Linked DNA regions of Homo sapiens: region 1 is linked to region 2. Evidence: fine-mapped expression QTL. A gene starts in region 2. The other region holds a variant in brackets. All regions are shown on one strand. Distances are between the middles of the regions. Region 1 overlaps TRNAU1AP (tRNA selenocysteine 1 associated protein 1). Region 2 holds the start of RCC1 (regulator of chromosome condensation 1).

The links. PIP is the estimated chance that this variant, and not a neighbour inherited with it, causes the effect.
Region 1: its variant is fine-mapped to the expression of RCC1 in whole blood (TOPMed, PIP 0.95).

What each region holds. Positions count from the first base shown.
Region 1 is chr1:28,565,977-28,578,384 of GRCh38, forward strand. It overlaps TRNAU1AP (tRNA selenocysteine 1 associated protein 1), which reads left to right. Exons shown (of 9, transcript NM_017846.5): 6 at 1,318-1,437; 7 at 5,200-5,362; 8 at 5,891-5,924; 9 at 11,524-12,408. The coding sequence ends at 11,660. Among named protein-coding and RNA genes, the nearest start is that of SNORD99, 6.6 kb to the right of the region's middle. The variant G/A (reference allele first, on the strand shown) is at 7,120.
Region 2 is chr1:28,500,767-28,512,365 of GRCh38, forward strand. RCC1 (regulator of chromosome condensation 1) reads left to right here and starts at 5,277. Exons shown (of 13, transcript NM_001381865.2): 1 at 5,277-5,318; 2 at 7,362-7,394; 3 at 8,064-8,139. SNHG3 (small nucleolar RNA host gene 3) reads left to right here and starts at 5,177. Exons shown (of 4, transcript NR_036473.1): 1 at 5,177-5,318; 2 at 5,454-5,561; 3 at 7,362-7,394; 4 at 8,064-10,126. It overlaps SNORA73A (small nucleolar RNA, H/ACA box 73A), which reads left to right and starts at 6,599; the gene lies at 6,599-6,805. SNORA73B (small nucleolar RNA, H/ACA box 73B) reads left to right here and starts at 7,792; the gene lies at 7,792-7,996. RefSeq lists enhancers at 6,091-6,385, 6,577-7,342, 8,875-9,640, 9,414-9,633, 10,494-10,543 and 1 more.

The DNA.
Region 1 (12,408 bases), 66 kb after region 2:
ACTTTCATGGAATTATTAGACAGTTTGATTAGATCACCCTGAGAAAATGCTCAGCACAGGCTGGGTGCGGTGGCTCACGCCTGTAATCCCAGCGCTTCGGGAGACAGGCGGGTGGATCACCTGAGGTCAGGAGTTCAAGACTAGCCTGGCCAACATGGTGAAACCCTGTCTCTACTAAAAATACAAAAATTAACCAGGCATGGTGGTGCGTGCCTGTAGTCACAGCTGCTCGGGAGGCTGAAGCAGAAGAATCGCTTCAACCTGGGAGGCCGAGGTTGCAGTGAGCCAAGATCGTGCCAGTGCATTCCAGCCTGGGAGACACAGCGAGACTCCATCTCAAAAAAAAAAAAAAAAAGAAGAGCCGGGCGTGGTGGCTGACACTTGTAATCCCAGCACTTTGGGAGGCTGAAGCAGATGGATCACCTGAGGTCAGGAGTTCGAGACCAGTCTGGCCAACATAGCGAAACCCAGGTCTCCACTTTAAAAAAAATACAGGCCAGGCGTGGTGGCTCATGCCTGTAATCCCAGCACTTTGGGAGGCCGAGGCGGGTGGATCATGAGGTCAGAAGATCGAGACCATCCTGGCTAACACGGTGAAACCCTGTCTCTACTAAAAAAATAAAATACAAAAAATCAGCTGGGCATGGTGGTGGGTGCCTGTAGTCCCAGCTACTCTGGAGGCTGAGGCAGAAGAATGGCGTGAACATGGGAGGCGGAGCTTGCAGTGAGCCGAGATCACGCCATTGCACTCCAGCCTGGGCAACAAGAGTGAAACTCCATCTCAAAAAAAAAAAAAAAAAGAGAGAGAAAATGCTCTGCGCAGTGCTAGGGAAATAAATATTTATTAAATGTTAGCTTGCATTAATTTATTCCTCTGCTAGAATTTGAGCTCAGGAGAGCAGGAACGTTGTCTTTCTGTGACTGCTGCATCCTGTGCGTAGCACAGTGCCTGGCATACAGGGCAGACTGTAAATATTTGCTGAATTTTCTTCTATGAGTTACTTTCCAGCAGGGTGTCGGGGAAGCTCCTATTTGGGAATGTTCCCTAGGGGTGAAGGTGTCGAGGAGGATGGTGAACTGAATGTGGGAATTCCTGCAGATATTAGAATTGTTTGTACTTGGATCTTGACACTATGTGGACACCTGTTGATGGGACTCTCCTTTCTTCCTCTAGTTTAATGGACTCTCTCTTTCTCTTCTCAGCCTCTTTTCCTTTCTACATTCCTGCCCACCTTCTTATCCTTACTTCTTTTTCATGTGTCCATTCTTAGACTTTAATCACATTTGTGATCTAAATTGTATATTTTTTTCATGCAGGGGTTATGGTTTTGTGAAATTCACAGATGAACTGGAACAGAAGCGAGCCCTGACGGAGTGCCAGGGAGCAGTGGGACTGGGGTCTAAGCCTGTGCGGCTGAGCGTGGCAATCCCTAAAGCGTGAGTCCTGCAGGGAAGGTAGAGAGACTCTAGACTCCCCTCCAGACACTCCTCTTTTGTTTGCTGAGAATCAGGGCATCCATACGCTGGATGGGAGGCTGAAGGGGATCCAATTCAAGTCACAAGTACTGAATGCCTGCTGTTTGCCAGGCTGTGGGTGCTGGGGTTGAACTAGCCCCACTCCTGCAGAAACTTAGAGTTGGGGATAGAGTATGATTTGGAAAGGCTGATGTATTCAGACATTACTGGTGACAGCATTGGAAAAGCTGTTTGGCTGTCCATACCTGATGTCCCTGTTCTTTGCCCAGTAGTCCCATTGTTGGGAACTTATTCATAGAATTAATAAGATTTGAATAAAGGGGAAAAAATTACTTCCATTTTTAGCCTTATTTATATTAATGAAACTACAGCCCTCCTATGAGTGTTCCATGCTGTGGGAATGGATAAGAATTAGTATTCCAGACACTTGGCCGGGCGCAGTGGCTCACACCTGTAACCCCAGGACTTTGGGAGGCTGAGGTGGGCGGATCACCTGAGGTCAGTAGTTCGAGACCAGCCTGGCCAACATGGCAAAACCTCATCTCTACTAAAAATACAAAAATTAGCCAGTCATGGTGGTGCATGCCTGTAGTCCCAACAACTCGGGAGGCTGAGGCAGGAGAATCGCTTGAACCTGGGTGGCGGAGGTTGCAGTGAGCCGAGATGGCATCAGTGCACTCTGGCCTGGGCAACGGAGCAAGACTCCGTCTCAAATAAAAAAGAAAAATTTTCCAGACACTCTACAGAACATTATATACTTCACTATCACACCTGTCATGCTAGGTAGAAAATCTTCTTCCCTTACAACTCCAAACTTTTCTCTGAATGGGATTTTTTGTTTGTTTGTTTTTTCCCTGAGTCAGGATCTCAAAGTCACCCAGGCTGGAGATCATGTCTCACTGCAGCCTCGACCTCCCCAGGCTCGGGATCCTCCCATCTCAGCCTCCTGATTAGCTGGTACTACAGGTGCACACCACCATGCTAGGCAAATTTTGTGTTTTTTGTAGAGATAGGGTCTTGCTTTGTTGCCCAGGCTGGTTTCGAATTCCTGGGCTCAAGCAATCTGCCCACCTTGGCCTACAAAAGTGTTGGGATTACAGGCATAAGCCATTGTGCCTGGCCAGATCTTTTATCCTTTAGCCAAATTAATGATTTTCAACTGGAGTGATTTTGCCTCCCAGAGGACATTGACAACATCTGGAGACATTTTTGGTTATCACAACCAAGGATGTACTAATGGCACCTAGTGGGTATCGGCCAAGGATACTGTTAAACATCATGCAATTCATCGGACAGCCACCCACCCCTCCACGTCAATAGATCCAGGGCTGAGAAACTCTACCCTAAGAGTAGTTGAACTATTTTTTTTTTTTTTTTGAGATGGTGTCTTGCTCTTTTGCCCATGCTGGAATGCAGTGGCGTGATCTTGACTCACTTCAGCTTCCACCTCCCAGGTTCAAGCGATTCTCCTGCCTCAGCCTCCCGAGTAGCTGGGACTACAGGCATGTGCCACCAAGCCCAGCTAATTTTTGTATTTTTAGTAGAGACAGGGTTTCACATGTTGATCAGGCTGGTCTTGAACTTCTGACCTCAGGTGATCTGCCTGCCTTGGCCTCTCAAAGTGCTGGGATTACAGGCGTGAGCCACTGCGCCCAGCCAAATAGCCATGTTTTTGAAAGCAATGATTTAGGGGTTCTTTATGGTTTAACTGTGTTTAATACATTGAAGATCAGGCTTAGTGACTTCTCCCAAAAATGTTATTTGTTGTAAATAAATTATTATATAAAAACATTAAATTAGCTGGGCTTGGTGTACTCCTCTAGTCCCAGCTGCTCTGGTGGCTGAAGTGGGAGAATTGATTGAGCCTAGGAGTTCAAGGTTACAATGAGCTATGATAACTCCACTGCACTCTAGCCCAGGCAACAGAGTGAGACCGTGTCTCTTAAAAAACAAAATAGGCTGGGCGTGGTGGCTCATGCCTGTAATCCCAGCACTTTGGGAGGCCGAGGTGGGTGGATCACAAGGTCAGGAGATCGAGACCATCCTTGCTAACATGGTGAAACCCCGTCTCTACTAAAAATACAAAAAATTAGCCAGGTGTGGTGGCGGGCACCTGTAATCCCAGCTACTCAGAGAGGCTGAGACCGGAGAATGGCATGAACCCAGGAGGCAGAGCTTGCAGTGAGCCAAGATTGTGCCACTGCACTCCAGCCTGGGTGACAGTGTGAGACTCCATCTCAAAAAAAAAAAAAGGCCAGGTGCAGTGGCTCACGCCTGTAATCCCAGCACTTTGGGAGGCCGAGGCGGGCAGATCACAAGGTCAGGAGATTGAGACCATCCTGGCTAACATGGTGAAACCCCGTCTCTACTAAAAATACCAAAAAAAAAAAAAAAAAAAATTAGCCGGGCGTGCTGGTGGGCGCCTATAGTCCCAGCTACTCGGGAGACTGAGGCAGGAGAATGGCATGAACCCAGGAGGCGGAGGTTGCAGTGAGCCGAGATCGCGCCACTGCACTCCAGCCTGGGCGACAGAGCAAGACTCTCTCAAAACAACAACAAAAAAAACGAAAACAAAAGGCGGGGTGCTGTGGCTCACGCCTGTAATCCCAACACTTTGGGAGGCTGAGTTGGGTGGATCACTTGAAGCCAGGAGTTCAAGACCACCCTGGCCAACATGGTGAAACCTCATCTCTGCTAAAAGTACAAAAATTAGCTGGGCCTCCCAGGATCAAGCGATTCTCCTTCCTTAGCCTCCCAAGTGGCTGGGATTATAGGCGTGAGCTACCACGTCTGTCTCTTTTCTTTTTTTTTTGAAACAGAGTTTCACTTTTATTGCCCAGACTGGAGTCCAGTGGCACAATCTAGGCCCATTGCAACCTCTGTCTCCCAGGTTCAAGCGATTCTCCTGCCTCAGCTTCACAAGCAGCTGGGATTGCGGGCGCGCCATCCCACCCAGCTAATTTTTTGTATTTTTAGTAGAGATGGGGTTTCACCATGTTGTCCAGGCTAGTCTTGGAACTCCTGACCTCAGGTGACCCACCTGCCTTCGCCTCCCAAAGTGTTGGGATTACAGGTGTGAGCCACCGCACCCAGCCCTTTTTTGTTTTGTTTTTTTTTTTAAACAGGATATCCTTTTGCCAGTCCTGACATAGTTTGTTAAGAGAGACAAACCTATCCATTAAAATCTCCTGTATTAAAAGCATGGTCTCTGGAGCCATACTCTCATATTAGCTGTGTGACTTTGGACAAATTACTTAACCTCTCTGTTCCTCAGTTTCCTTATCTGTAAAATAGGAATAATGATACACTTATTGCATATGGTTGTTTTGAGGATTAAAAGAGTTAATTGGTGGCCGGGCTCCCAGCACTTTGGGAGGCTGAGGCAGGCGGATCACGAGGTCAGGAGATCGAGACCAGCCTGGCTAACATGGTGAAACCCTGTCTCTACTGAAAATACAAAAAATTAGCCAGGCGTGGTGGCACACACCTGTAGTCCCAGCTACTCAGGAGGCTGAGGCAGGAGAATCGCTTGAACCCGGGAGGCGCAGGTTGCAGTGAGCCGAGATTGCGCCCCTGTACTCCAGCCTAGGCAACAGAGCAAGACTCTGTCTCAAGAAAAAAAAAAGTTAATCGGTATAAAGCACTTAAAATAGTCTGTGGCCACATAGGCAGTGTTACGGAAATGTTTGCTTACACTTATTTTTGTTTCTGTCTTCATTTAAGGAGCCGTGTAAAGCCAGTGGAATATAGTCAGATGTACAGTTATAGCTACAACCAGTATTATCAGCAGTACCAGAACTACTATGCTCAGTGGGGCTATGACCAGAACACAGGCAGCTACAGCTACAGTTACCCCCAGTATGGCTATACCCAGAGCACCATGCAGGTAACCATGACTTGGCAAGACTGGTCCCCTTGGGTTGTGTTTCTCCTCTAGAAACAGGTCATTCTCTAGGATGGGATTGGTAAGGACAGGGGCTTGGGCTTCAGAAAAAATAGGGAAAGTTGAAGCAGTCCAGTTCCTCTTGTTAAAAATAAGCCATTGTGGGTAGGGCCCAGTGGCTCACACCTGTAATCCTAGCACTTTGAGAGGCCGAGGCAGGTAGATCACCTGAGGTCAGGAGTTCAAAACCAGCCTGGCCAACATGGTGAAACCCTGTATCTACTAAAAATACAAAAAATTAGCTGGGCATAGTGGCAGGCGCCTATAATCCCAGCTGCTCAGGAGACTGAGGCAGGAGAATCTCTTGAAACTGGGATGCGGGTGTTGCAGTGAGCCGAGATCACGCCACTACACTCTAGTCTGGGTGACAGAGCTAGACTCCACCTCAAAAAAAATAAAAAATATAAGCCACTGTGGTCCTGGGCCAGGATTTCACCATGCCCCTAACCCACATCTCTGGTCTCTTGGCAGACATATGAAGAAGTTGGAGATGATGCATTGGAAGGTAAGGGTTCATACGTTCCTTACTCTGTCAGCCATTATCAGGTGACTGCTGTGGCTGGCACTGTGCTCTCAGCTAGAGGGAAGACAAGATAAATTCTGCTCTGGAAGAACTTACATTCTGGTTAGAGAGCCAGACAAATATGTAATTATGGTAAGATGTGTCGGGTGTTACCCAGAGGTGTAAGTGTAGATCCCAGAGAGCCTGGGACAGGCAGCTCCAGGAGAGCCCATCACCCCCTTGACATGTGGCATTCTATCCTGGTATGTGGGCCTCTAACGATAATACTGTTACCCTTTTTTTGTGTGTGTGTGTGGTGGAGTTTCACTCTTGTTGGCCAGGCTGGAGTGCAATGGCATGATCTCAGTTCACCGCAACCTCCACCTGCCAGGTTCAAGCAATTCTCCTGCCTCAGCCTCCCGAGTAGCTGGGATTACGGGCATGCACCACCATGCCCAGCTAATTATTTTGTATTTTTAGTAGAGACAGGGTTTCTCCATGTTGGCTTGGCCGGTCTCAAACTCTCAGCCTTAGGTGATCCGCCCGCCTCAGCCTCCCAAAGTGCTGGGATTACAGGCATGAGCCACTGTGCCTGGCCGATAATACTGTTACCTTTTATTTGTTTGACTGTTTGTAAAATTCATTTTTTATTTATTTTATTTTTTTTCTGTTTTTCAATATATTTTAAAAGACATATTTTCCTGATTTTTAAGTCATCGTTAGGATGGAAAATTTGGAAAATATAGTAAAGTATGGGCCAGGCATGGTGGCTCACGCCTCTAATCCCAGCACTTTGGGAGGCCGAGGCAGGTGGATTGTGAGGTCAGGAAATCGAGACCATCCTGGCTAACACGGTGAAACCCCGTCTCTACTAAAAAATAGAAAAAATTAGCCGGGTGTGGTGATGGGCGCCTGTAGTCCCAGCTACTCGGGAGGCTGAGGCAGGAGAATGGCGTGAACCCGGGAGGCAGAGCTTGCAGTGAGCCGAGATCGCACCAATGGGCTCCAGCCTGGGAGACAGAGCGAGACTCCGTCTCAAAAAAAAAGAAAAAGAAAATATAGTAAAGTATAATGAAACTGAAAATCACCCCATATCCTATTACAACATAGTAATAGCCATTATTAATTTTTTCTTTTTCTTTTTTTTTTTTTTTTGAGGCAGAGTCTTGCTGTGTCACCCAGACTGGAATGCAGTGGC[G/A]CAATCTCATCTCACTGCAAGCCCGCCTCCCGGGTGCAAGTGATTCTCCTGCCTCAGCCTCCCGAAGAGCTGGGATTTCAGGCACATGCCACCACGCCCAGCTAATTTTTGTATTCTTAGTAGAGACGGGGTTTCACCATCTTGGCCAGGCTAGTCTCAAACTCGACCTCGTGATCCGCCTGCCTCGCCTCCCAAAGTGCTGGGATTACAGGGGTGAGCCACCGTGCCCAGCCCATTATTAATTTTTTAATTAAAAATATTTAAGCCTTGCACGGTGGCTCACCCCTGTAATCCCAGCCCTTTGGGAGGCCAAGGAGGGTGAATCATGAGGTTAAGAGATCGAGACCATCTTGGCCAACATGGTGAAACCCCGTCTCTACTAAAAATAAAAAAATTGCCAGGCGCGGTGGCTCACCCCTGTACTCCCAGCACTTTGGGAAGCCACGGCGGGAGGATCACCTAAGGTCGGAAGTTCTAGACCAGCCTGGCCAACATGGTGAAATTCTGCCGGTACTAAAAATAAAAAAATTAGCCAGGCGTGGTGTTGCGCGCCTATAATCTCACCTCCTCAGGAGGCTGAGGCAGGAGAATCACTTGAACCCGGGAGGCGGAAGTTGCAGTGAGTCGAGATCATACCACTGTACTCCAGCCTGGGCAACAGTGCAAGACTCTGTCTCAAAAAAAAAAAAAAATTATCCAGGCATGGTGGCCCATGCCTGTAATTCCAGCTCCTTGGGAGGCTGAAGCAGGAGACTCACTTGAACCCGGGAGATGGAGGTTTCGGTGAGCCAAGAATGCTCCATTGCAGTCCATCCTGGGTGACGAGAGTGAAACTCCGTCTCAAAAAAAAAAACAACAGTATTTACTGTCTAGGCACGGTGGCTAAAGCCTGTAAGGTCTTTGGAAGGCCAACGTGGGTTGGAGGATGGCTTGAGCCTAGAACTTTGAGACCAGCCTGGGCAACATAACGAGACCCCATCTCTTTTTTTTTTTTTTTTTTTGGGAGACGGAGTCTTGCTCTGTCACCCAGGCTGGAGTGCAGTGGTGCAGTCTCCAATCTCAGCTCATTGCAACCTCTGCCTCCCAGGTTCAAGTGATTCTCCTGCCTCAGCCTCCTGAGTAGCTGGGATTACAGGCATGCACCACCACGCTCGGCTAATTTTTGTATTTTTAGTAGAGACAGGGTTTCAGCATGTTGGCCAGGCTGGTTTCGAACTCCTTACCTCAAGTAATCCTCCCGCCTCAGCCTCCCAAAGTGCTTTGATTACAGGCATGAGCCACTGTGCCCGGCCAAGTATTTATAATTTTCACTGAATTTCACAGAAGAAAAAGGAAAGAAAAACTGAAAGCCAAGCATGGTGGCCTGTGGTTCCAGCTACTTGGGGGAGGCTGAGGCAGGAGGATTGCTTGGGCCCAGGAGGTTGAGGCTTCAGTGAGCTGTGACTACAGTTGTGCCCCACCATAACTGGCTATTTTTTTCTATTTTTTTGTAGAGGCAGGGTTTCACCATGTTGCCCAGGCTGGTCTTGAACTCCTAGGTTCAAGTGATCTGCCCATCTCGGCCTTCCAAAGTGCTGGCATTATAGGCATGAGCCACTGCTCCTGGCCAAAACTTTTTTTGAGGTACAAAAAGACTCAAAGTTTGAAATCTGTTTTGAGGATTCGTCTTCAAGAGAAAGTCATAGGGAAAATGTTTTCTGTCAAGAAAATGTTCGTTAAAGGAAACAGATCCCTTTTAGGGCATGAACAAACTTGTCTAGTTCATAACATTTTAAAGCACTTTCTTGTGTCCTCTCATGTGATGCCAACTGTAGTGACCTTGTGGGGTGGGCTGGGAAGGACACAGGAGCTCCATTTCACAGATGGGAAACTAGTGGCTCGGAAAGCCCAAGTGATCTGCTGAGGGTCACACAGTGTGGGGCAAAGTCAGGACAGTCCGGTCTTTTTATATTCAAGTCTCTAGTTGTTTCCCCCTGGGAGACATTGCCTTCTTTCTAGAGATAATTAGCCTCATAATATCTGTAGATAAGTCCTTAGAATTTTCCAATCTCTTTTTAATCCTTTTTTTGTTTTCTTTTTCTTGAGAGTCTTGCTCTGTCACCAGGCTGGAGTTCAGTGGCACGATCTCGACCCACTGTAACCTCTGCCTCACAGGTTCAAGCGATTCCCCTGCCTCATCCTCCTGAATAGCTGGGACTACAGATGCGCGCCACCACGCCCAGCTAATTTTTGTATTTTTAGTAAAGATGGGGTTTCACCATGTTGGCCATGATGGTCTCTATCTTTTGACCTCATGATCCGCCCGCCTCTGCCTCCCAATGCTGGGATTACAGGTGTGAACCACTGCGCCAGGCCCAATGTTTTTTTTTGTTTTTTTTTTTTTTGAGACGGTGTCTCACTCTTGTTGCCCAGGCTGGAGTGCAGTGGCGCGATCTCAGCTCACTGCAACCTCCGCCTCCCGGGTTCAAGTGATTCTTCTGCCTCAGCCTCCCGAGTAGCTGGGATTACAGGCATGCGCCATCATGCCCAGCTAATTTTCTTTTTTTCTTTTTTTGAGACGGAGTCTTGCTCTGTCGCCCAGGCTGGAGTGCAGTGGCGCAATCTCGCATGCCCAGCTAATTTTCTATTTCTATTTTTCTAACCCCATAAAGATGGGGTTTCTATGTTGGTCAGGCTGGTCTCAAACTTCTGACCTCAGGTGGTCCGCCCACCTTGGCCTCCCAAAGTGCTGGGATTACAGGCTTGAGCCACTGCGCCTGGCTTTTTTTTTTTTTTTTTTTTTTGAGATAGAGTCTTTGCTCTGTCGCCAGGCTGGAGTGCAGTGGTGCCATCTCTGTTCACTGCAACCTCTGCCTCCCGGGTTCAGGTGATTCTCCTGCCTCAGCCTCCCGAGTAGCTGGGACTACAGGCGTGCACTGCCATACCCGGCTAATTTTTTGTATTTGAGTAGAGACAGGGTTTCACCATGTTGCCCAGGATGGTCTCAATCCCTTGACCTTGTGATCTGCCCACCTCGGCCTCCCAAAGTGCTGGGTTTACAGGCATGAGCCACAGTGCCCAGTTTTTTTTTTTTTTTGAGACAGAGTCTCACTTTGTTGCCCAGACTTGAGATCAGTGATGTGAACATGCCTCACTGCAGCCTCGACCTCCTAGGCTCAAGTGATCCTCCTGCCTCAGCCTCCCTAGTAGCTGGCACTACAGACACAGGTCACCATGCCCAGCTAATTTTTTTTTTTTTTTTGAGATGGCATCTTGCTCTGTTGCCCAGGCTGGAGTGCAATGGCGTGATCTCGGCTCACTGCAACCTCCGCCTCCCGGGTTCAAGCGATTCTCCTGCCTCAGCCTCCCGAGTAGCTGGGACTACAGGTGCCTGCCACCACGCCCAGCTAATTTTTCTATTTTTAGTGGAGACGGGGTTTCACCATGTTGGCCAGGATGGTCTCGATCTCTTGACCTTGTGATCTGCCTGCCTTGGCCTCCCAAAGTGCTGGGATTACAGGCGTGAGCCACCGCGCCCGGCCGAGACGGGGTTTTGCTCTTGTTGCCCAGGCTGGAATGCAGTGGTGCCATCTCGGCTCACCGCAACCTCCACCTCCTGGGTTCAAGCAATTCTCCTGCCTCAGCCTCCCGAGTAGTTGGGATTATAGGCATGTGCCACCATGCCCGGCTCATTTTGTATTTTTAGTAGAGATGGGATTTCTCCATGTTGGTCAGGCTGGTCTTGAACTCCCGACTTCTGGTGATCTGCCCGCCTCGACCTGCTGAAGTGCTGGGATTATGGGCATGAGCCACTGTGCAGAAAAAATTTTTAATAGTATTTTACCACCAGGGACAGGGACTCATGCCTGTAATCTCAGTACTTTGGGAGGCTAAGGCGGGAGGATCACTTTAACCTAAGAGTTCAAGGCTGCTGTGAGCTGTAAGTGTGCCACTGTACTCTAGCCTGTGTGACAGAGCAAGACCCTTTCTCTAAAGTACATACACACACACATACATACATACAGGACTTGGCCTTTCAGCTCCTATATTTGACTGAAGTTCTTCCACTATGCACTTATTGTCAGTTCTTGAGATGATGCTCTGGACTTAATAACTTTGATCAGACCTTCTAAACCCAAATTTGAAGTGAGGACCAGACCAGAAAATCTAGGATACATGATGGCTAGAGACACAGGTGTAGCTTTTAATAGATGCAGGCTAACAGCTGCCATTTTCCCATTCTCTAGATACATTATTCTATTTTCATCTTCCCCAGAACCCTGCAAGGCAGTGCTTTCACTTCCTGAAAGAAACTGGCAGGATAGGGACCTTACCATAGAACAGAGTTCTGGGAGAAGGGAACTGAACCAGGTCCCTTGCAGCTGTCCCTAGACTTCCCTGACCCCATCCTTGCTTGCTTTCCAGACCCCATGCCACAGCTGGATGTGACTGAGGCCAACAAGGAGTTCATGGAACAGAGTGAGGAGCTGTATGACGCTCTGATGGACTGTCACTGGCAGCCCCTGGACACAGTGTCTTCAGAGATCCCTGCCATGATGTAGCCAGGCCAAAGGACAAGCCAGGTTGCATGATGTGAGGGAGATGAGAGACTCCTTTTTAAAAATTGTGAAACCTTTTTGGAAATATGATTTGTAAGATTTTAATAATGACTGTTTTTGGAGATCATGAATGTTTCTACAACACTGCTGCATTCATTTGACCATTTGAGTTTGAAGACCAAGGGAACAACTTTTAAACAAGGTTCAAATTGGTTTCCTTCACAGGAATCCTTTGTCCAGGTAGTTATCCACATAGGACAGTTTGGGATTATCCAAAACTGGGATGAGCAGCTTGGGATAATTCACACACTAAAGCCTGAGTTCAAGGTTTCTCAGTTGACAGGTAGGTATGTAAATCAGGGTTCTCTGGAGTATTTGTAGGACCTGCCATATTTGAGTCCTAACTTGGTGCAAGTCTGGCAGCTAGGTAGAAAAGGCACTCTAGCAGGTGTGGTAGGAGCACGCCCCAGAAGGTAGAATGTGGTGGGGTGTGATGGAACAGGCCAGTTGGCCTAAGAATTAGTACTTGCTCTAATAATGGGTTTCATCTATTTTCATGAGTTGCAGCATCTGCATATACAAGGCCTGGATCACTTTAGGATCAATATTTTGACACGGGAGAAGGCAGCTCAGAAAGGATTAAGGAAGATAGCTCAAAGCCAAAGCAGACCCTCCGTGTGAACTTTATACTGCTCACTTCCGTGTTTCCCAAGTAAATGGGGAAACTGTCCAACCTTGTCATGTGTTGGGA
Region 2 (11,599 bases):
ATTGGACCCCCAAGATGACATTACAAAAGGACACTTAGTACTTTTTCTTTTTTTTTTTTTTCCCCAGGACGGAGCCTTGCTCTGTCACCCAGGCTGGAGTGCAGTGGCATGATCTCGGCTCACTGCAACCTCTGCCTCCCGGATTCAAGCAATTCTCCTGCCTCAGCCTCCTGTGTAGCTGGGAGTACAGGCGTCTGCCACCACCCACGGCTAATTTTTTGTATTTTTAGTAGAGACGGGGTTTCACCATGTTGGCCAGGCTGGTCTGGAACTCCTGACTTCAGGTGATCCGCCTGCCTCAGCCTCCCAAAGTGCTAGGACTACAGACATGAGCCACTGCACCCGGCCCAGGACACTTAGTACTTCATGTTATCTTTTCCAGCAAGCAGCCCAGTTTCAGTCCAGGTGGCCTCAGCAATGACTCACTTCTATTTGTCACTTAAGAGACTGGCCTTGTTTAGTGCACCACCCTTTACCAAGAGTTAAAAGAAACCATGAGTCAGAACTCCTTGTGTCCACCTGCTTCCAGATTGTCCTTCTACTAGCCCTCCAAAGAAGCCTCAAATTGCTATTGCCCTTTTGAGGTTAAATTGTCTCCAGAAAGCTGTTTTGAAGATGAAGATTGCCCAGTGTTTGCCAAAACAATGAATGAATTTTGGGTCTCTGTGGATTTATATAACTGTACCCCAGGAAAAGGCAGGTCCAGCCCGGTGCAGTGATGCACACCTGTAGTCCCAGCAGCTTGGGAAGCTGAGGTGGAAGGATCAGTTGAGCCCAGGAGTTCAATACCAGCCTGGGCAACATAGACCTTGTCTCTTGAAAAAAGAGGAGCAGGTCCAATGGACACTGAATAGGCAAAGGATGAAATAATAAGCATAAAAAGATGACAATGTGCAACAAAGAAAATCCTATCCTTGAAGCCAAAATACAGCCAGCACCACTGTTTCAACGTTCTATTCCATTTCAGCCCTAGGAGGCATGAAGGGAAAACCAGGAATGACCAGCAACCCAGACCTCTTGCTCCATCTGTCATTTTGTGTGGATATTGTTAATTTCTTCCCCAAAGAATTTTGCCTCCTATGTAGAGCATAGAGGTCATCTGACAGGAACAAACAGCTTTAATGTTCCTTCATTTGGCACTGAGGACACACAGTCCTCAGTGAGGATTGTGGGAGGGGGAGCATTAAATAAATTATTTAATGCTTACCTCCTTCCTACCCTCACCCGCAACAAAGACACAATCTTCCCGTGACCCCAATTTCTCTTCAATCTATTACCCTCTCTCCTGCTTTTCCTATACTCCCTTCACACAATCTATTCCAATGTTAAACAACCCAAGTTCTCAGGCCAGGCAGCTGGGCTAAATGATTGACAGAGGAAGAACTAGTGATGGAGATGTAAACTGAACAGGCTTCTTGGCCTTGCTTCATAACCTCTGGTCTGTGCACATTGTTTTCCCTACCTAAGGCCATATTCACTCAGCTCATTAAAATCTAAACGAAATCCAAACCAATATGGCTTTCCTGTGGTCACCAGGGATTTCTCAGCCTTCGGTTATTGCACTTGGCTGCTTTGCAACATTTGGTGCTTTGGACAATGTTCTAGTCCTCAAAACTCTTCTTCCTTGGCTTCTGAGGCACCGCTGTCTTCTGGTTCTCCTTCCCTGACTGACCTTTCTCTGTGCTGCTGGCTTCTTCCTCGAACACCATTTAAATGCTGGGTTTTCGGCCAGGTGCGATGGTTCACGCCTGTAATCCCAGTACTTTGGGAGGCCGAGGCAGGTGGTTCACCTGAGGTCAGGAGTTCGAGACCAACCTGGCCAACATGGTGAAACCCCATCTCTACTAAAACTACAAAAAAATTAGCTGGGTGTGGTGGCATGTGCCTGTAGTCCCAGGTACTTGGGAGGCTGAGGCACGAGAATTGCTTGAACCCGGGAGGCAGAGGTTGCAGTGAGCCAAGATCACAACACTGCACTCCAGCCTGGGTGACAAGAGTGAGACTCCATCCAAAAATAAATGAATAAAATAAAATAAATGAATGCTGTGTTTTACCGGGTGTGGTGGCTCATGCCTGTGATCCCAGCACTTTCGGAGGCCAAGATTGGCAGATCGCTTCAGGCCAGGAGTTCAAGACCAGCCCGGGCAGTATAGTGAGAGGCCATCTCTACCAAAAATTTAAAAAATTAGCTGAGCATGGTGGTGCATGCCTCTAGTTCCCGTTACTCAGAAGAGGCTGAGGTGAGAGAATCGTTTCAGCCCTGGTGGTCCAGGCTGCAGTAGTCCTGATCACACCACTGCATTCCAACCTCAACAACAGAGCGAGATCTTGTCTCAAAATAAAATAAATGCTGGGGTTTCATGTCTTCCCATCACTCTCCTCATTCTTCCAAGACGACTTTAGCCACCATGCTAATTCTTACAACTTCTAAATATTTTATCACCAACTCAGATTTCTTACAGGAAGCCCAACCCCATATATCTAATTGCTCTTTGGACTTATATACAACCAGATGTTACTCAGGTAACTCGTATATACTCCAATGTGGACATTACTCCTCCCCCACTGCCTGCATTTCCACTTATCAAGGTTAGAGACCATAGTATGTTCAGCCTCCTAAGCCTGAAACTCTGGTATCCTCAAGTTCTTCTCTTACCTTGCAATTCCAGTGGGACGACAAACCCTACATCAGAAATGTCTTTTTTTTTTTTTTTTTTTTTTTTTTTTGAGATAGGTTCTTGCTCTGTTGCCCAGGCTGGAGTGCAGTGGCATGATCACGACTCACTGCAGCCTCCATCTCCTGGGCTCAGGTGATCCTCACACCTCATAAGTAGCTAGGATTACAGGAATGTGCCACTACACTCAGCTAACATTTTTTTTAAAATTTTGTAGGCCGGGGTCGGGCGCAGTGGCTCAAGCCTGTAATCCCAGCACTTTGGGAGGCCGAGGCAGGTGGATCATGAGGTCAGGGGTTCAAGACCAGCCTGACCAACATGCTGAAAACCCGTCTCTACTAAAAATACAAAAATTAGCTGGGCATGGTGGCGGGCGCCTGTAATCCCAGCTACTCAGGAGGCTGAGGCAGGAGAATTGCTTGAACCTGAGAGGCGGAGGTTGCAGTGAGCCGAGATCGCACCACTACACTCCAGCCTGGGGGACAGAGTGAGACTTCATCTAAAAAAAAAAAAAAATTTGTAGGCCGGGCACGGTGGCTCATGCCTGTAATCCCAGCACTTTGGGAGGTCAAGGCGGGCAGATCACGTGGTCAGGAGTTCAAGACCACCCTGGCCAATATGGTGAAACCCCGTCTCTACTGAAAATACAAAAATTGGTGGGGCATGGTGACACTTGCTTGCAGTCCCAGCTACTCGGGAGGCTGAGGCAGGAGAATTGCTTGAACCCAGGAGGCAGAGAATGCAGTGAGCCAAGATCGAGCCACTGCACTCCAGCCTGGGCAACAGAGCAAGACTCCATCTCAAAAAAAAAAAAAAAAAGAATTGCTGCGATAGTAAATAATGTACGTAATAAAGCATTCAGAACAAAATCTAATATGTAGGAGGAACACCATAAACGTTACTACTCAAGATAGCCCAGCTGTGATAGCTCTGTCTCTCTAGCCAACGTTTTTCCACCTTACACCACACTAAAAATTCCATCATATTTGCAACATTTCTTATGTATATATATCGTAAGCATTCTTTACTTGCCTACTTCATATTCAGAGGGTTTTGTGTGTGGTAAAATATACATAAAACTTGCCATTTTTAACTAGTTTAAAATGTATAGGGGGCCAGGTGTGGTGGCTCAGGCCTGTAATCCCAGTACTTTGGGAGGCCAAGGCGGGCATCACTTGAGGTGAGGAGTTCGAGAGCAGCCTGGCCAACATGGTGAAACCCGGTCTCTACTAAAAATACAAAAATTAGCCGGGCATGGTGGCATGCCTATAGTCCCAGCTACTCGGGAGGCTGAGGCAGGAGAACTGGTTGAACCTGGGAGGTGGAGGTTGCAGTGAGCCGAGATCACACCACTTCCTTCCAGCCTGGGCGACAGAGCGAGACTCCGTCTCAAAAAAAAAAAAAAAAAAAAAGTCCAGGTGCGCTGGCTCATGCCTGTAATCTCAGCACTTTGGAGGCCGAGGCGGGTGGATTGCTTGAGGTCAGGAGTTCGAGACCAGCCTGGCCAAGATGGTGAAACCCCGTCTTGCTAAAAATACAAAAATTAGCCAGGCACGGTGGCGGGCGCCTGTAATCCCAGCTACTGGGGAGGCCGAGGCAGGAGAATCGCTTGAACCCGGGAGGCCGGGGTTGCAGTGAGCCGAGACCGCGCCATTCCACTCTAGCCTGGGTGACAGAGCAAAACTCCATCTCGAAAAAAAAAGAAAGAGTATAGGGCAGTGCTTTTAATTACATTCATTCACACTGTTGTGCAATGGAGTTTTTTATTTTTTATTTTTATTTATTTTTATCCGGGCCAGGCCTGGAGTTTTTAAACTTTTATCTGATTCGTCTAGGGGCACTTTCATCTTATTTACCTTCACATTTATCAAATTATTTCTTTCACAGGTGACAGAGCAGATTCAATTCCTTTTGATACTCCGTATTTCTCTATATGTATTTTTTTCATTCTGCATTCTTATTATTCCAACGTTTTACTTATTTATTTGGAGAGAGAGTTTCGCTCTGTCGACCAGGATGGAGTGCATCGGCGCGATCTCGGCTCACTGCAACCACCGCCTCCCAGGTTCAAACGATTCTCATGCTTCAGCCTCCCGAGTAGCTGGGACTGGAGGTGCGCGGCACCATGCCTGGCTTATGTTCTGTATTTTTTGTAGAGACGGGGTTTCGCCATGATGCCCAGGCCGGTCTCGAACTCCTGGCCTCAAGCGATCCGCCCCTCACGGCCTTCAGAGCTGCTGTAATCACAGGCGTGAGCCACCGCGTTCGACTCTTCCAAAAACTTTTTGGCCAGTTTATCTAAGGGCATATCCTACAGACTGAGTCCAGTGATTGCACAGAAGTAAACGTCCTCTGCAGCTACATACCTACAAACCTATTTCTGTAACGTACATTCCCCAGCAAGGTCCCGCGGGAAGGATCCACTACCGCGAGAGGCCTCCCAGCCAGGAAGGGGTGGGGCTCAATCTGCAGTAGATTCCCAGAAGCCTCAGTGAGTTTCTGATTCTCTAACTGCGCATGCTTCTGCGCACGCGCAATAGACATTCCAGGACTTCCGGGCACTTCGTAAGGTTTAAAAAGGATGCTTCGCGTTTTCTCTCTCCTTTTTGGAGACAGATTCGCAGTGGTCGCTTCTTCTCCTTGGTAAGTGTGATCCTTGGTAAGTGTGATCAGATGCTTGCCACCGGAGTTGTGGGTCTAATGCTATAGATCAGTAGCCGAGCTTCCCTAGGAAGATCATATAGTATTTTATTTATTTACTTTTTTTTTTTTTTTGAGACGGAGTCGGTTTGTCACTCAGGCTGGACTGCAGTGCTCGTTGCAACCTCCGCCTGCCGGGTTCAAGCGATTCTCGTGCCTCAGCCTCTCCAGCAGCTGGGATTACAGGCACGTGCCACCACGCCCGGCCAATTTTTGTATTCTTAGTGGAGACGGGGTTTCGCTATGTTGGTCAGGCTGGTTTTGAACTCCTGATTTCCGGTGATCCACCACCCTCGGCCTTCCAAAGTGCTGGGATTACAGGCGTGAGCCACCGCGCCTGGCCGGAAATCATGTAATTTAAAACTATATATGGGTGTCTTAGGCGGCATCGGTCCCAACTCTAAAGTACGCGTTAGACGGGCCTGGGCCAGAAGTGGGCCATGGAGACCTCGGGACCCGCAGGGCTGCCGCCCGACCCAGCGAGCCTCTGAAGGTGCACCGCCACCCCCACTGTTTATCTTACTGCCTCATAGTAGGCACATTGTCGTTCTCAATATAATTGCACACAGTTTTATTCTGGATCCTCATTTGCCTTTAAGAATTTTCTCAATTTTTCTTTTTATTTGATCGCACCACTGCAACCTCCGCCTGCTGGGCTCAAGCAATTCTCCTGCCGCAGCCTCCCGAGTAGCTGGGACTACAGGCGTGTACCACCGCGCCTGGCTTATTTTTGTATTTTTAGTAGAGACGGGATTTCACCATGTTGGCCAGGCTGGTCTCCAACGCCTGACCTTGTGGTCCGCCACGCCAGGCCGAAGATTTTCATAATTTGGAAGCATTGCGTTTCGTAATTATGCTTTCTCGTATTTTTGTGATTTGGGTCATTTTTATTTTTATATTTTTAGGATTACAGGCGTGAGCCATCGTGCCTGGCCGATTTGGGGGTAATTAACAAGTCCACGTGTTTCATTTGAATTTAGGATAGCTGGGCCTAATTGTTGTCTTTGCTTCTGCGGTACCTTCCACATAGTACTAACCGCCTATTGTAAAGTAATTAGAATAGCTGAATATGCATGTTACCAGTCTAGAAACCGATTTTTTTTTAACACCCCACTGTGGACAGGGTGGAAACTCGTTTGCTTTCTTGTTTAAGATCTGTAGTAACATGAATGGATGAAATTGTTTCCTATTGGATTCTGTAAATTTATGCGTTACACTGATTGTCCAACGTGGATACACCCGGGAGGTCACTCTCCCCGGGCTCTGTCCAAGTGGCGTAGGGGAGCATAGGGCTCTGCCCCATGATGTACAAGTCCCTTTCCACAACGTTGGAAATAAAGCTGGGCCTCGTGTCTGCGCCTGCATATTCCTACAGCTTCCCAGAGTCCTGTCGACAATTACTGGGGAGACAAACCATGCAGGAAACAGCCTTCTAGAGCACTGAATCTGGATTGAAGTCTTTTTTTTTTTTTTTTTTTTTGGAGATGGAGTCGCTCTGTTGCCCAGGCTGGAGTGCAGTGGCGCACTCCATTGCCTCTGCCTCCCGGGTTCAAGTGATTATGCTAAGTGATTCTCCTGCCTTGGCCTCCTGAGTAGCTGGGATTACAGGCCCCCGCCACCACGCCAGGCTAATTTTTGTATTTTTAGTAAAGACAGGGTTTCACCATGTTGGTCAGGCTGGTCTCAAACTCCTGACCTTGTGATCCGCCAGCCTCTGGCCTCCCAAAATGTTGGGATTACAGGCGTGAGCCACCACACCTGGCTGGATTGAAGTCTTAATACATGTTTAAGAAAAATTGGCTAAAAAGTAGCCAGGCATGATGATAGGTAGCTGGAGGAAGGAGAATCGCTGGAGCCCAGGAGTGACCTATACTCAAACCTATACTCCAGTGCCACTGTACTCCAACCCCAGGCGATAGCATGAGGCCCCTCGTTGAAAAAGTTTAGGGTTTTGCTGTACTAATAGATTAATATCTTGTTTTGCAGGATTTGTTAAGGATTCCAAGTAACTCTTATTTGGTGAGTAAATCTGCTAATTGTTTTTTGCTTATCAGCTCTTTGTCAATGATTTCTGTAATGGAAATAGGATTGAAGAGACTTTTATTCTAGTTGGTCAGGATTTACCTCTGAGGCATTTAATCATTCTCAGAGCAATAGCCAAATATCGACTTTGCTGCATTTTTGTAGGCATGTTGACATAACTTCAACATATGCTCTGTTCTGTAAAAATTGCTTTTTTTAGTCAGCTCATTAAAAGTGCAAAGTAGTAAAAGCTGCCCTAGTGAACTGTAGGAAGCCTAATTGGCTTTATCTACATGTGTAGCCTGAGCTGAGAAAGATACTAGCCCTTGAAAATACTGTGGGTGATTAGCAATATTGGATTTGTCGGTTACTCCAATTCCTCACTAATGAGCATTCCAACGTGGATACCCTGGGAGGTCACTCTCCCCAGGCTCTGTCCAAGTGGCATAGGGGAGCTTAGGGCTCTGCCCCATGATGTACAGTCCCTTTCCACAACGTTGAAGATGAAGCTGGGCCTCGTGTCTGCGCCTGCATATTCCTACAGCTTCCCAGAGTCCTGTGGACAATGACTGGGGAGACAAACCATGCAGGAAACATATCTAGTATACTAGATTTTAAGTTGAAGTAGGATCTTCAGGAGTCTAATCATTATTTCTTTTCTTTTAGGAGAGAAGACGATCTGCACTTCGCATTTTGGCATTGACATTTAATTTTAGGGTCCTTTATATAGAAGGGAGAGTAGGTAAACTGATTTTTTTTTTTAACAGGGAGGGTTTGACAATCTTTGGCAGACTTGGAGCAAAAGATTGAGGTGCATTTCATGCCTCCTTTTGAGAGTCTTGCTCTGTCGCCCAGGCTGTAGTGCAGTGGCGCAATCTTGGCTGCAACCTCAGCCTCCCAAGTAGCTGGGATTACAAACATAAGCCACCACGCCCAGCCCTCATACCTCTTTTAAAAGTCGACCTGTTTTGCAGAAAGTCTGCTGTTTTTGTACTAAAGGCTTTGGAATTTGGCATTTAGCTAGGAATGCACATTCTTTCACCTCATTCATACTTTAAGAACCACAGAAGTGACTCTGCTTGGCCAGAAGGCACACTGTGTTGGTGGTTATATTAAAAGTCCTTGAGTATTTTGCTTTTCATGATCTTGCTCACTGCAACTTCCGCCTCCCAGGTTCAGGCGATTCTCCTGCCTCAGCCTCCCAAGTAGCTGCGACTACAGGCGTGTAGCACCACACCTGGCTAATTTTTGTATTTTTAGTAGAGATGAGGTTTCACCATATTGGCCAGGCTGTTCTCAACTCCTGACCTCGTGATCCGCCCACCTCAGCCTCCTAAAGTGCTGGGATTACAGCTGTGAGCCACCCTGCCCGGCCACTTTTGTATGATTTCTAATGTATTTGTAATTTACCTAACAAATTGCCTAATCTGCTATGTTAATGTATTTATGAATTAAAATAAATACGACTGCATGTTTGTGGTTCATTTTTGTGGAGGTGGCTGTGGTGACATCAGCCAAGAATCTGAATGGTACTGTTGAAGGAAACTAGCATGATAGCTTCAGTTCTAAAGGCCCTGAAACCTAGTCTCAGGTGGGTCCCCCTTGGGTTCACTTTATATTGGCAGTTTATTGGGAAAATGGATATTAGGTCCTGACCAATAGGACCGTAAGTCTGGGTTGAGTGCAAGATGAGTTAGACCGATTCTTTAGCTTCCTGCAGTGTAGTGGAGGAAAAATCGATGGTAGCAACGGGAGGTTGTATCCCTAGCTGATGAGTTGTATGAGCCTCTACTACCTGGCGCACCTCCGCCTGAAGATTGCCAGAATTGCTTGCCTCATGACGTGAGTCACAATGGAAACTTTGTCAAGCCCCCTGCACTGGCTGCCAACATAAATGTTCAGTACCCTGAAGGATGGGACTGAAGGGGGATCATCTAGAAGGTAAAGTTACCTACTGGCATAGGGGAGGTGGGACAGCCGTTAAGCCATTTGGAACTTGATGGAGACAGGTTTGAGGGAGGTGGGTGAGATTGGAGTTTGGTGGACTGTAGAGCTTGCTTGCCAAGGTGTTGAGGTCAGGGTTGGTTTGAGAATGGAAGCTAGTTACTAGCTATGATTGTGGGGGAACACAGCTTGATTTTTCTTACAAGCTAAGAGGAGTGAGGCAGTGTTTAAGAGGGCATGTTAAATGCAGCCAGGCTTGGTGGCTCACACCCGTAATCCCAGCACTTAGGCTAAGGCAGGCGGATCACAACATCTAGAGATCCTGGCCAACGCGGTGAAACCCTGTCTGTACTAAAAATACAAAATAACTGGGCATGGTGGTGTGCACCTGTGGGAGGCTGAGGCAGAATTGCTGGAACCCGGGAGATGGAGGTTGTACTGAGCTGAGACCTTGCCACTGCGCTCCAGCCTGGTGACAGAGTTAAGTCTCAAAAAAAAGGCATCTTCCTAAAGCAATTGTATTTGTGCTTACCTGTGCCAGGCACTGTTCTAGGTAAGCACTAAGTGGGCTTTAATACAGCATATTCCAATGGGGAATCCCAGGAACCAAAAGACTAATTGTCCAAGTCCACAACTAGAAGTGGCACCTCTGCAGAAACAAGCATCAAATTCCCTGCTCAGGAAGAAGCCAGATGAGTCAGCCCCATTCGTCTGTATGCCCAGTCCCATCCGTGTCCTGCTGTAACTACATAGATCTCACCTGAGTAAAGTGATTTTTTTCTGAACCAGTGGTTTTAGTATGTTTTCAATCCATATACTCAGGTGGGTTTGGGTAACTGCAGTGCTGGGCAGGAAATGAATGAATTTCTATTGACTTGCAAGGTAGAGGTGAAGCAAAGCTGTCAGTAGGTGTTCAGGTCCCACTCTGCTAAACTTCAGCTTGCAATACCCCTTTTTTAGACTTTCCAAACAGGCACTTCTGGCCTTGTTCTTTGTGTAGGCAGACAGTATTGGTTGCCTATCTTAGGAGTACTAGACTGGGTTTGAATCCTGATCCCACCACTTGCTGTTCATGAGACTTTGGGTGAGTTACTCAGCCCCTCTGCCTCAATTTCATGTTCACAAAATAAGTGATAAACTACCTCATAGAGTTGTAATAAGGACAAAGGAGTTGGTATTTGTGAAAAGATTCTTAGGGTCTCTAGATGGAGTGCAGCAGCATGATCACTTATTAAATAACATTCTTTTGTGACTTCTCAGAAACCAAGGATACAGTATCCAATTTTTTGTTTTTTGTTTTTTTTTTTTTTTGAGAGGGAGTCTCGCTCTGTCGCCCAGGCTGGAGTGCAGTGGCACAATCTCAGCTCACTGCAAGCTCAGCCTCCCCAGCAGCTGGGACTACAGGTGCACGCCGCCACACCCGGCTAATTTTTTTGTATTTTTAGTAGAGAAGGGGTTTCACCATGTTAGCCAGGAAGGTCTCCATCTCCTGACCTCGTGATCCGCCCACCTCGGCCTCCCAAAGTGCTGGGTTTACAGGCGTCAGCCACCATGCCCAGCTTTTTTTTTTTTGAGATCTAATCTCACTCTGTCTCCAGGAGGGAGTGCAATGGAGCCATCTTGGCTTGCTGCAACCTCCACCTCCCGGGTTCCAGCAATTCTCCCACCTCAGCCTCCCAAGTAGCTGGGATTACAGGCGCACGCCACCATGCCCGGCTAATTTTTTTTGCATTTTTTAGTAGAGACGGGTTTCACCATGTTAGCCAGGCTGGTCTCGAACTCCTGACCTCAAGTGATCCACCTGCCTCAGCATCCCAAAGTGTTGGGATTACAGGCGTAAGCCACTGCGCCTAGCCTCAAGCCTGATCCTTTTTTTTTTTTTTTTTTTTGAGATGGAGTCTTTGCCTCCCAGGCTGGAGTGCAGTGGCGTGATCTCAGCTCACTGCTACCTCTGCTTCCTGGGTTCAAGCGATTCTCCTGCCTCAACCTCCCAAGTAGCTGGGATTACAAGCGCCTGCACCGCACCCGGCTAATTTTTGTGTTTTTTTTTTCAGTAGAGACAGGGTTTCGCCATGTTGGCCAGGCTGGTCTCAAAACTCCTGACCTCAGGTGATCCACCACGCCCGGCAGAGCCTTGATCTCTTAACCACTATCCTCACCTCCCCTTTCCCTAAGGATCCACAATGGCCTCACTGGCTCTTGAAGGCAGGCTGGCACCTTGATCATTCTTCCTGGTCATTAGTATTCTGATCTGGTTA